Regions from separate parts of the Homo sapiens genome. Here region 1 is linked to region 2. Evidence: fine-mapped expression QTL. A gene starts in region 2. The other region holds a variant in brackets. All regions are shown on one strand. Distances are between the middles of the regions.

Region 1 (5,310 bases), 120 kb before region 2:
ACAATGACAGAAACATACAGTATGGAACTTTCCAGAGTGACATCCCTCCTTACATTATCTCATCAGACCCTCACAACAACACTGTGAGGAAGCACAGGGCAAAAAGTGAGCTCACATAATAGATGTAATCTGTGCTGAGGCCACATAGTAAGTGGCAAAATCAGGATTAGGTCAACTGACTCCAAATCCAAAGTGTATTCCATTCCACTCTGTCTCAAATACTTAAAACCCAAATGCACATGCATGCACACACATGTGAAAGTGCATGAGAGTGCATGCACACACATACACACACACACACACACACACATGCATTTGCCATTTAAAATTACTGGGCTCTTATACCCACGCTACCTTCGCTATAGTAACTGGGGCCCTGTAACCAGGGAACCAGCCATAGGAGATATTGAGGGGATAAAGAACAGAGATATATTGTGCCCTAGATGCCCTGTTTTTTGGCAGCAGTTCATTCTTTCGCCGTTTGTGACCTCCCATAACAGCTGGAGTGGTCAACCAGAGATGCAACCAACTGCAGCTCCAAGATGTGTCCCCTGCCTGATAGCTGACCTCAGAATGATCAGAATGAGGCCAGACACCATTGTAAGTGGAAGCCTTCCAGTTCCATAGGAAGTACAGAACTGAGCCACATAGAGAAACACACTGGAATTGCTGGCATTAAAGACTACACAGAATGCTGGCCTCTGACTGCCCTTTCTTGGCTGTCCTGTGGAGACCAGAGACAGTCCTAATAGAAGAGGAAAAGCTGGGGTGAGGGATGTCTGCTATTCTAATGAGGCTGAAACAAGGACTTCATCTTTGGTTGTTATATAGAACCCTTATATATGTTTGTCCCTTCAGTTAACAGTAAGGTATCTCTTCTAATAAGTGATTAATTCTAATATTCTCTTCCAGTGACAGGTGATTGGAAGCTTGTCCATAGAGACGAAAGTAAACCCACATGATCTGAAGGGAAGGGGACAGGTGAGATGATACAGACTGGGGCCGAATCCTGATCAGGCCAGGAATTAGGAGAGAAGTACAATTTATTGGTTTATCTTGAAAGGGGAGTCATGGAGATTTTACTGAAGATTTTATAGAGAGATAAGGAAGAGAATTTTCACTAAACATCAGAGGCAGCACTTGCTGAATTTCTCTCAGTGTCTCTGTTCTTCCCTCTTGTAAATCTGCTGCCTCATTCCTCATCCATCTCCCTCCCCACAGCCCCACAACCTCATCTATGGGTTGTTTTTCAACACTGATTAGTCCATGAGACCTCAAGGACACAGATTCTCAGATCCTCCTCCTGTGTTGTTCAAGTCCCTCTATCTCTTGGCCTTCAGTGGAGCTCCACTTCCCATCCTAATCCACTGCCCATACCAAGGTCATATTTAGATTTACACACTGTCAGCCTCTTTCAGGGTAGAAACCTTGTCTTGTATTTCTTTACATCTCCTACAGTGCCTATCAAAAATGCTGTCTGAAATTCGCAAAATTCCTGGAGATTTTTGCGCTGAGTACCAGATAAAATCAATACGTGAAATTGCTTTGAAAACAATAAAATAAAGTAGAGCTATAGTCAGTCATGAAGTAAGAAGCCCAGAGCAATACTCACATAGATCATAAATGTTGCAACTCGGTTTCCTGACTTCATTCTGTAGAGGGGGCTGCTTGGTGACTGAGAAAAAAAAAAACAGAACATATTATTTTATGCAGATGGCACCAGAGGGACAGGCAGGATTCCACTATTAATACAAATAGAAGTAAAATGGGGGCATCAAAGATGGGATATAGTTCTGATATACACCTACTGGAGTATGTGCCCGTCTTTGCTGGCAGGTACTCAATACAATTTTTTTTTTTACTAATTTATTAGATACTTATATAAAAGAATTGTCTACTACCAAACAGAACTACTTGTCAGTAGTGAAAGTACTATATGAGGGGTTAATTGCACCTTTGAGTTCTCTGTGAAATATAGAAATTAATATATAAAATATTACAGACAATTATTCTGTAGAAATACCAAATCATAAGGCCAGAGTTCCAATTACTTGCTGAAGAGACATACTCTTTTTTTTTTGTCATGGAACAGTTTGAGATATGATTTATATTCCATAAAATTCACCCCTTGTAAGCCTACTGTTCAATGAGTTTTCCCACAATTGAAGTTTAGAACACAGAACACTTCCATCTGCTGAAAAGCTCCTTCATGCCAGTTAGGAGTCAATCCCTGCTCTCACCTCCAACCTCAGGCAACCCACTTATCTGCTTTCTCTCTATAGCATTCCATTGTGCAGATATATCAAAATTTGTTTATCCGTTCACCTGTTGACAGACATCTGGGCTGTTTCCAATTCTTGGTTTTTTTTTTGTTTTTTTTTTTTTGTTTTTGAGATGGAGTCTCACTCTGTTGCCCAGGCTGGAGTGCAGTGGCGTGATCTCAGCTCACTGCAACCTCTGCCTCCCAGGTTCATGCCATTCTCCTGCCTCAGCCTCCCAAGTAGCTGGGACTACAGGCGCCTGCCACCATGCCCAGCTAATTTTTTTTTTTTTTGTATTTTTAGTAGAGACGGGGTTTCACTGTGTTAGCCAGGATGGTCTCGATCTTCTGACCTCGTGATCCGCCTGCCTTGGCCTCCCAAAGTGCTGGGATTACAGG[C/T]ATGAGCCACCGTGCCCAGCCCCAATTCTTGGTTATTACAAATAAAGCTACTATAAACTTTTCTGTACAAATGTTTGTAGAGACATATTTTCTTTTTCTTTTGGGTAATATACATAGGTGTGAAATGGCTGGATCATAAGTAGGTGAATCTTAAACTTTTTAAGAAACCATCAAACTTTTTTCCAAAGTGTCTGTATAATTTTGCATTCCCACTAGCAGTGTATGAGAGCTTCAGTTCCTCCACATCCTCACCACCACTTGGTATAATCTTATTTTATTGTAGCCATCATAAGAGAGTGCAGTGCTATCTCATTGTGGTTTTAATTTGCATTTCCCTAATGATGTTGAGCATCTTTCCATATGTTTCTTAGCCATTCATTTATCCTTTTTGGAGAGGTGCCTACTCAAATAACTTTCTGTCCATTAAAAAAAATTGAATTATCTTATTACTGAGTTATAAAAGTTCTATAGATATTTTGGATACAAGTTCTTTACCAAATATATGATTTGCAAATATTTTCTCCTAGTTGGTGGCTTGTCTTTTCCTTTTCTAATGATGTTTTTTGAAAAGCAAAGAATTTTAATTTGATAAGGTCCAATTTATCAGTTGTTTTCTTCTTTTATGGATCATACTTTGGTGTCATATCTAAGAAATCTTTGCCTAACCTGTGGTCACAAAAATTTTCTCTTATGTTTTCTTCTAGAAGTTTTATAGTTTTACATTTACATCTATGACCCATTTTGTGTTAATTTTCATATATGGTGTAAGGTAAGGGTGTAAAGTCATTATTATTTTGCAGATAGATATTAAATTGTTCCAATACTGTCTATTGAAAAGATTGTATTTTCTTCATTGAATTTCCTTGGCACCTTTGTCAAAACCAATTGATCATAAATGTGTTGGTTTGTTTCTGGACTCTGTTCTGTTCCATTGACATATGTGTCTCTCCTTACACTGGTACCACACTGCCTTGATTCCTGTAGCTCTATATTAAGTTTTGAGATCAGATAGTGTATGTCCTCCAATTTGTTCTTCTTTTTCAAAATTGTTTTGGCTGCTCTAGGTTTTTTGCATTTCCATATACATTTTAGGATCAGCATGCTAATTTCTACAAAAATAAACCTCCTGGAATTTTTATAAAGCTGGGGTTCAATTTATAGATCAATTTTGGGGAGGTCATTTTAATCCTCAAAAATCACTACTGGGTATCTACCCAAAGGAAAATAAAGTATTATATTACAGAAAAAACACCTGCACCCAGATATTTATTGCAGCACTATTCACAACAGCAAAGTCATGGAACCAACCTAAATGTCCATCGATGGTTGATTTGATAAAGAAAATAAGGTATATATACATAACAGAATACTATCCAGCCATAAAAAGAATGAAATAATTTCCTCTGCAGCAACATGGATGGAGCTGGAGGCCATTATCCTAAGTGAACTAACTCAAAAGCAGAAGATAAGATATTGCATGTCCTCACTTATAAGTGGGGGCTAAACAATGGGTACACATGGACATAAAGATGGAGGTAACAAACACTGGAAACTGCAAAATGGGGGAGGGTGAAAGGGGAGTGAGAGTTCAAAAATTACGTGTCAGGTAAAACATTCAATAGTTGGGTGATGGGTACACTAGAAGTGTGGTCCCCACCATTACACATGCAATACCCATATAACAAGTATGGCTGGGTGCAGTGGCTCACTCCTGTAATGTCAGCACTTTGGGAGACTGAGGTGGGAGGATCGCTTGAGCCCAGGAGCTCAAGACAAGCCTGGGCAACATAGCAGGACCTTGTCTCTACAAAAAAAATTTTTTTAAATTAGCCAGGTGTAGTCCTAGAGCTACTTGGGAGGCTGAGATGGGGGGATCACTTAGCCCAGGAGTTCAAGACTGCAGTGAGCTATGATGGTGCCACTACACTGCAGCCTGGGCAACAGAGCAAGATGCTGCCTATAAAGAAAAAAATAAATACATAAATAAATACGTAAATAAAAAACAAGCACATGTACCCCATGAATCTAAAATTTTAAAAAAATTATTTGCTATTATCAGCAAAGATGGCCAGTTGAGATCATGAGGCTAGAAGAGTTACTGGAGGAAGGACAATCCTCACTAGGAAGTCCCTGAGTGGAGCAGTCCGATGATTCCATGACAAGCCACATTCTTCCCTCACCAGCAAATTTTAGAAGGGAGATGGTGGCAGACAAGAAAATGAGTCAGCAACAATATGCTTGAAACTAAGGCTTTCAGATATTTCTGGAAAAAGAACCTTTGTTCTAAGATTTCACTTAGTATTCCCTGAGAGCCTACAAGAGCTCTGCCTCAGAGAAATAAATAATGCCCTGGCTCCCTACCCCAGGGGATTGGTCATTGACTCCACCATTACCGTAGCATGGTCAAAGTGAGGCTCATAGTGTCCTCCGATGCCATAGTTCACCACCTGCAGATACTCTGCATAGGGAGGCCGGACATCAAGGCCTGTGAGGGCAGCAATGCGGTGGTTGAGGGTCACCAGTTTTGGGTCAACAGTGTCCTTCAGCCAGGCACTAAAACACACCACAGATTGAAGCATCAATGATCTGTTGCCCGAAATGACTAAATGACGTCTCTGAATGAATGAATAAACAAATGAATTATGTTAATT
Region 2 (5,384 bases):
AAAAAAAAAATCAATCAGGAGACTCATTAGGAAAAGTACAGTTAAAACTGGCACCTAAAGAGAACAAAAAGTCTTGCTACTCCAAGTGTGGTCCACAGACCAGCAGCATTAGTATCACCTGAAAATTCATTCTTTTTTTTTCTTTTCTTTTCTTTTTTTGAGACGGAGTCTCGCTCTGTCGCCCAGGCTGGAGTGCAGTGGCGCGATCTCCGCTCACTGCAAGCTCCGCCTCCCGGGTTCAAGCCATTCTCCTGCCTCAGCCTCCCGAATAGCTGGGGCTACAGGCGCCCGCCACCGCGCCCGGCTAATTTTTTGTATTTTTAGTAGAGACGGGGTTTCACCATGTTAGCCAGGATGGTCTCGATCTCCTGACCTCGTGATCCACCCGCCTCGGCCTCCCAAAGTGCTGGAATTACAGGCCTGAGCCACGGCGCCCGGCCGGAAATTCATTCTTAGGCAGAATCCAAGGCCCCACCCCAGGCCTCCTGAATCAGAATTTGTATTTCAAGATCCCCAGGTGATCTATAAGCACATTAAGGTTTGAGAAGCATTAGTTTAGACTGTAGAGGAAGAATTATTCGTCCAATATACATATGACCAATTAACACCAAATACCTCATTGTAGTTGCTTATTTGTTGGTCTTCCTCATCTGCTAACTGAGGCTTGTTGAGGGCAGGAACCCTTTCTATTTTCCTCACAAGTATTTCCTGGGTCTAACAAGACCTAAAACACGCACTCAGCATTCAATATTTTTTTGCTGAATGAATGAATGAATAAAGTAAAAACAAAACTTTCAGAAAGTGAAGCCTTAAGGAAATTCATTTGTACAACATAATGTCACATACTACCATACAAATTCCTTAATTCAGTGTCATTAATTCCATTTTAAATGTGCTGCCTTCTCTACTTCAACAAAGGTATTTTACGCACTTGACAAAGCAAAAGCTTGGATTATCTTCCTCTGTTGGAGCTACCAGGGACCTCTTTTACAAGTAAGATAGCTGCATTTTAATTCTGATTGTCACAAATTCATCCCAAATGCCCGCACGAGGTTTAATTACCACCACAACTTGGAGGTGGGGGCGGAGGGTGGGTGGGGAGGTGTTGGTAGAGAAGTAATGGTTAAGGCAAAAACAATCCTGTATTAAGAGTACCACATGAAACCTGGAAAACACGATTCCTTGAACAGATTAATTCCAGAAAATAGCTGCCAGCAGGAGAAAGAAGAGGTAAGCGCCTTGCCTTTCCCAACAGCAAAAGGTGATACTAGACAATACCAGGGAGTGATAAAAGGCCAGCAACTACCTAGCGACAGAAGGAGGAAACACACCAGACCAGAACTAAAGCGGATAGCGGTTAGAAACGCCCAGTAAGGGTGCCAGAAACCACTTTCAGGTATGTGGAGAAGGAAGTCAAGGGAGAAAAAGGGAAAGGAAATCGTTGTTTAGGGTATAACTTACAATGATGATGATTTTTTTTTTTTTTTTTTTGAAGAAAGAGGGAAGACAGCACTTGAAAGGAAAGAGGGTAAAGAAGAGGAAGGGAGGTTACAATTGAGAGCACTGCAGAAGGAAGCGATGCAGATGTTGCCGCCCGGCTCTGGCAGTCCGAAGGAGCAACCCCACGCATAGGTGGGTGGCAACGCCCTGCTCCGCTGCCCCCCGCTCGGTGTCCCGAGCCATCTCCTCTGCAGCCCGCGGGGCGCTGGGTGGGCACAGGAAAGAGCAGACTGTGTGGGGGAGGCGACGGCGTTTGCCGGGCTGACCAGGTACCCACCTTATCCCAGCGGAGCCACTGCCCGATGGCCGTGTCCAGCTGAGGGTCCCCGGTGTGGTAGGGGGCGTGGAGCAGGTTGGAGTTCAGATCCCCCTCTGTGTTTTCAGCCATGGCGACCAGACAGGCGTACGGGCCGGGGGCCGGCGAAGACACTGAGTTGGGGTGGGGGGTGGCTTGGGGTTCGCTCACCAGGGTCCAGGCGTCCCCACCTCACTGAAGGGCATCGGAGACCAACCGCAGGGTGTTCGTAACAGCTCCTGCCGCGGCGTCAGGGAACCGGGAGAGAGGGGGTTTATGGCCGCCTGCTCCCCAGCGGACCAGGTCCGGGTCTCTGGGCGAAGTGACTGAGGCGGTCGCGCCGCGAGAGAACAACAGTCCCAGATGTCTGGGTCCTGGCTCCGCCGCCGCCGCCGCCGCCCGCCCCGCCTACGGCCCCGCCCCGCGCCTTAGGCCCCGCCCCTTCCCGCCCTTGCTGATTTAAGTCCCCGAAGTTCTAGACTGGAGCCCGGGAGCGCGCTCCCCACGCCTCCGAAGTAGTGGGGGTTTACAGCCCGTCCGGGTGGTGAGGCAATAGTGCACGGTTCTTTTTATTTTTTAATTTGCCAAGGGTCTCCTTTCCTCGATCTGCTCTCACGGCTACCACTAGCAAGCTGCCTTTGCGCTTGCCCTGCAGGTCCCCAGCGCGCGCGCAGGCCCCCAGTTTCTCTTGGGGGCACGCGCCGGTTGGGGGAGGAGGGGCAGTGCGAGCTGTCCGCGCACTGCCTCACGGGAGTTGTAGTTCTTTCCTTTGTCTGAGCTCAGCGGAGACCGCCGCCGAGACTACGACTCCCAGCAGCTCCGCGTTCCCCCTTTCCTCAAAAGAAAAAGATCTACCTCGAGGTAGTTCCCTACAGACACGCCCTATCCCTATTAGTTATGCTGCGCTGTGTGGCCCTGGCATTAAATTAAACAAGGAATGACATAGTAAGGGGACAAAGTGGTATCCGTTTAGTGCTGTGCAGTTTACGAATCGCGTTCTATCGCCTCAATCCCTCAGTAAGGTACAGGGGCGTAGTCCTTTTCCGTTTCACACACAAAGAAGAAACTGACTCCCTGAGACACCTCTCCTAAGAGGCCGAGTTCGTGAGCGGTCAAACTAGGGTTCCAATCTCATTTCAGATCCCCTCAGCTGGCAGTTATTTTATTAGGTCGGTGCAAAAGTAATTGCTGTTTTTGCCATTAAAAATAATGGCATTAAAAGTAATGGCAAAAACGGCAATGACTTTTGTACCAATCTAATATCTCTGCTGCTATAGTAAACTAGGAGGTAGGGAGAACAAGATTACTGGAAAATAGATAAGGAAGTTGTTGAGGGAAGATGGTCGGCATTTAACCTAAATATAAGAATGTATAAGCATCACAAGATACCAAGAGCAATGGTAATGGGAATACGGAGGAAAAGGAAATTGGTTCACCCAAATTGAAATAGTCTTCCGTTACTTCTTAGCCGTCTCTCCTATGGAAAGCTCACCTAAGTTGAGGTCTGGGAAATGCTGAGAAGTGCTGACCTGTCAGCCACCTAGCTACTCCTCCGTTTCTTGGTTTGGCCTTCTTAGAATGGCTATGATTTTGGGCAAGTACATTACAACTCTTTCCCTAGTCAGCTTTTTTGTAAGGAAGGTATGATAATATTTACATCATGGCTGTACAGTAACTTAATAAATGGCATTAGGCTGCTTTGAGGTTCACAGATAAAAGACATATTAAGTTCAAAGTATTACTTTATTTCCTTTAAAGTGCCATTTACCATAATAAAATTCAAACTACCAAGGTACAAAAGGATTGTGGTACCAGTTTCTGAAAAACGTGCCATAGTTGGGAGTTGCAGTTTTTGCTAACGATTGTTTCTTTTGTGGAGTCAGCAGGACTCTTGTTCTTTTAATCACACAAGGCCTGGGCAACAGTCACGTGTCCTGGAGAGAAATTCATCTTCCACTACCATCACCATTATTATCCATGATACATATTAAACATTTACTCTCTGCTAAGCATTATGGTAGGAGCTGAGGCTACAAGAATCTATATAATTGTTCACTTCGAGAAGTAACATCTGAGGAGACAGGATATATGTAAGAAAAGAAAGCCCATGATAAATAGCAAGTGCTGCCAACAACTGTTAATGAATTTACATCTGAGGTGGTCAATGAAAAAAGCATCAAGCAGGAGGGACCTGCACTGGGCTTTCAGAAACAAAATAAACAAGTTGAGAATAAGATAGAGGATATTTCAAACCCATAGATCAGTGGTTCTCATATCTCCCTAGGAGTTTGTTTAAATTAATATTCCTGGACACTGCCTCCAGAGATTCTGAATCAATACATTGGCATAGGGCCTAGGTACCTGCATATTTGAAATATCTATTGACTGTCACAATTCAAAGTGTGATTAGGAGGACAACTGTGCTGATGTCCTCTGGAAGCTTATTAAGAAATACAAAATTTCATACCCCAGTCCAGTTCTGCTGCATCAGAACCTACATTTTAACAAGATCTAATGATGAGTTATATTTAAATTTGTTAAACAGTGTTTTTTATAAGACAATTCTTATTCAGTTCATTTCTGAGAAACACTACCAAATCAACAGAGCTTTCAAGACATGGAAAAAAAGAGTCAACTAACCTTCACTTTTATCAGCAAGATCATAGCAGACATTTACTGCTTACCAGAAATCTTGCCCAGCGGATTAGATTTATTGTTTGGATGTTGGAGGGTAACCAAGGAGACCCAGAACCCATCAAATCCAACAGCAGTGTCTAAGTGTGTTCAGCAGAGGAAGTGTAGTAGTTCCCCTAGTCTGGGAAAGCTCAGAGCTTTCATTTCTGTTGGAATTTGCCCATGGCATCCTGCATTTTTATTTGCTAAGCCTGGCAACATTAACTGTGGTTATGAAAAAGAATATCCTTCTTGGTCCCCGTATACAGTCATACATTGCTTAATAACAGGGATGTGTTCTGAGAAATGCATCATTAGGTGATTCTGTCATCTTAACATCATAGAGTATACAAACCTAGGTGGTATAGCCCACTACCCACCTAGGCTATATGGTACAGCTTATTGCTCCTAGGCTACAAACCTGTACAGTATGTTGCTGTACTGAATACTGTAGGGGACTGTAACACAATTGTAAGCATTTGGATATCTAAACATATCTCAATATAGAAAAGGTACAATTTTTGGTATAAAAATTATGATATAAAAAATATAAAATGGCACACCTATATAGTGCACTTACCATGAATGGAGCTTGCAGGACTGAAAGTAGCTCTTGAGTGAGTAAGTGAGTGAGTGGTGAGGGAATGGGAAGGTCTAGGACACTACTGTACACTACTGTAGACTTTATAAGCACCGTACACATTAGCCTAGGCCTACACTGGGTGAGGATCATCAAGACATCAACTCAGTCATAGGAATTTTTCAGCCCCATTATAATGTTATGGGACCACCATTGTATATGCCGTTCTTTGACCGAAACATCCTTATGCAGCACATGACTGTATTATATTTACTACATATATATAATATAATGTTTCAAATATTACATATAATGGACCTAATATTTTAGAATCAT

Evidence for each region. PIP is the estimated chance that this variant, and not a neighbour inherited with it, causes the effect.
Region 1: its variant is the best candidate, but not a certain one, in a credible set for the expression of PGM2L1 in fibroblasts (GTEx, PIP 0.73).

The regions. Positions count from the first base shown.
Region 1 is chr11:74,271,933-74,277,242 of GRCh38, forward strand. P4HA3 (prolyl 4-hydroxylase subunit alpha 3) reads right to left here. Exons shown (of 13, transcript NM_182904.5): 9 at 5,053-5,212; 10 at 1,613-1,675. Among named protein-coding and RNA genes, the nearest start is that of P4HA3-AS1, 37 kb to the right of the region's middle. The variant C/T (reference allele first, on the strand shown) is at 2,660.
Region 2 is chr11:74,396,274-74,401,657 of GRCh38, forward strand. PGM2L1 (phosphoglucomutase 2 like 1) reads right to left here and starts at 2,160. Exons shown (of 14, transcript NM_173582.6): 1 at 1,778-2,160. The coding sequence starts at 1,888. It overlaps MIR548AL (microRNA 548al), which reads left to right and starts at 2,964; the gene lies at 2,964-3,060. RefSeq lists enhancers at 1-310, 311-810, 1,902-2,523, 2,255-2,624, 2,524-3,144.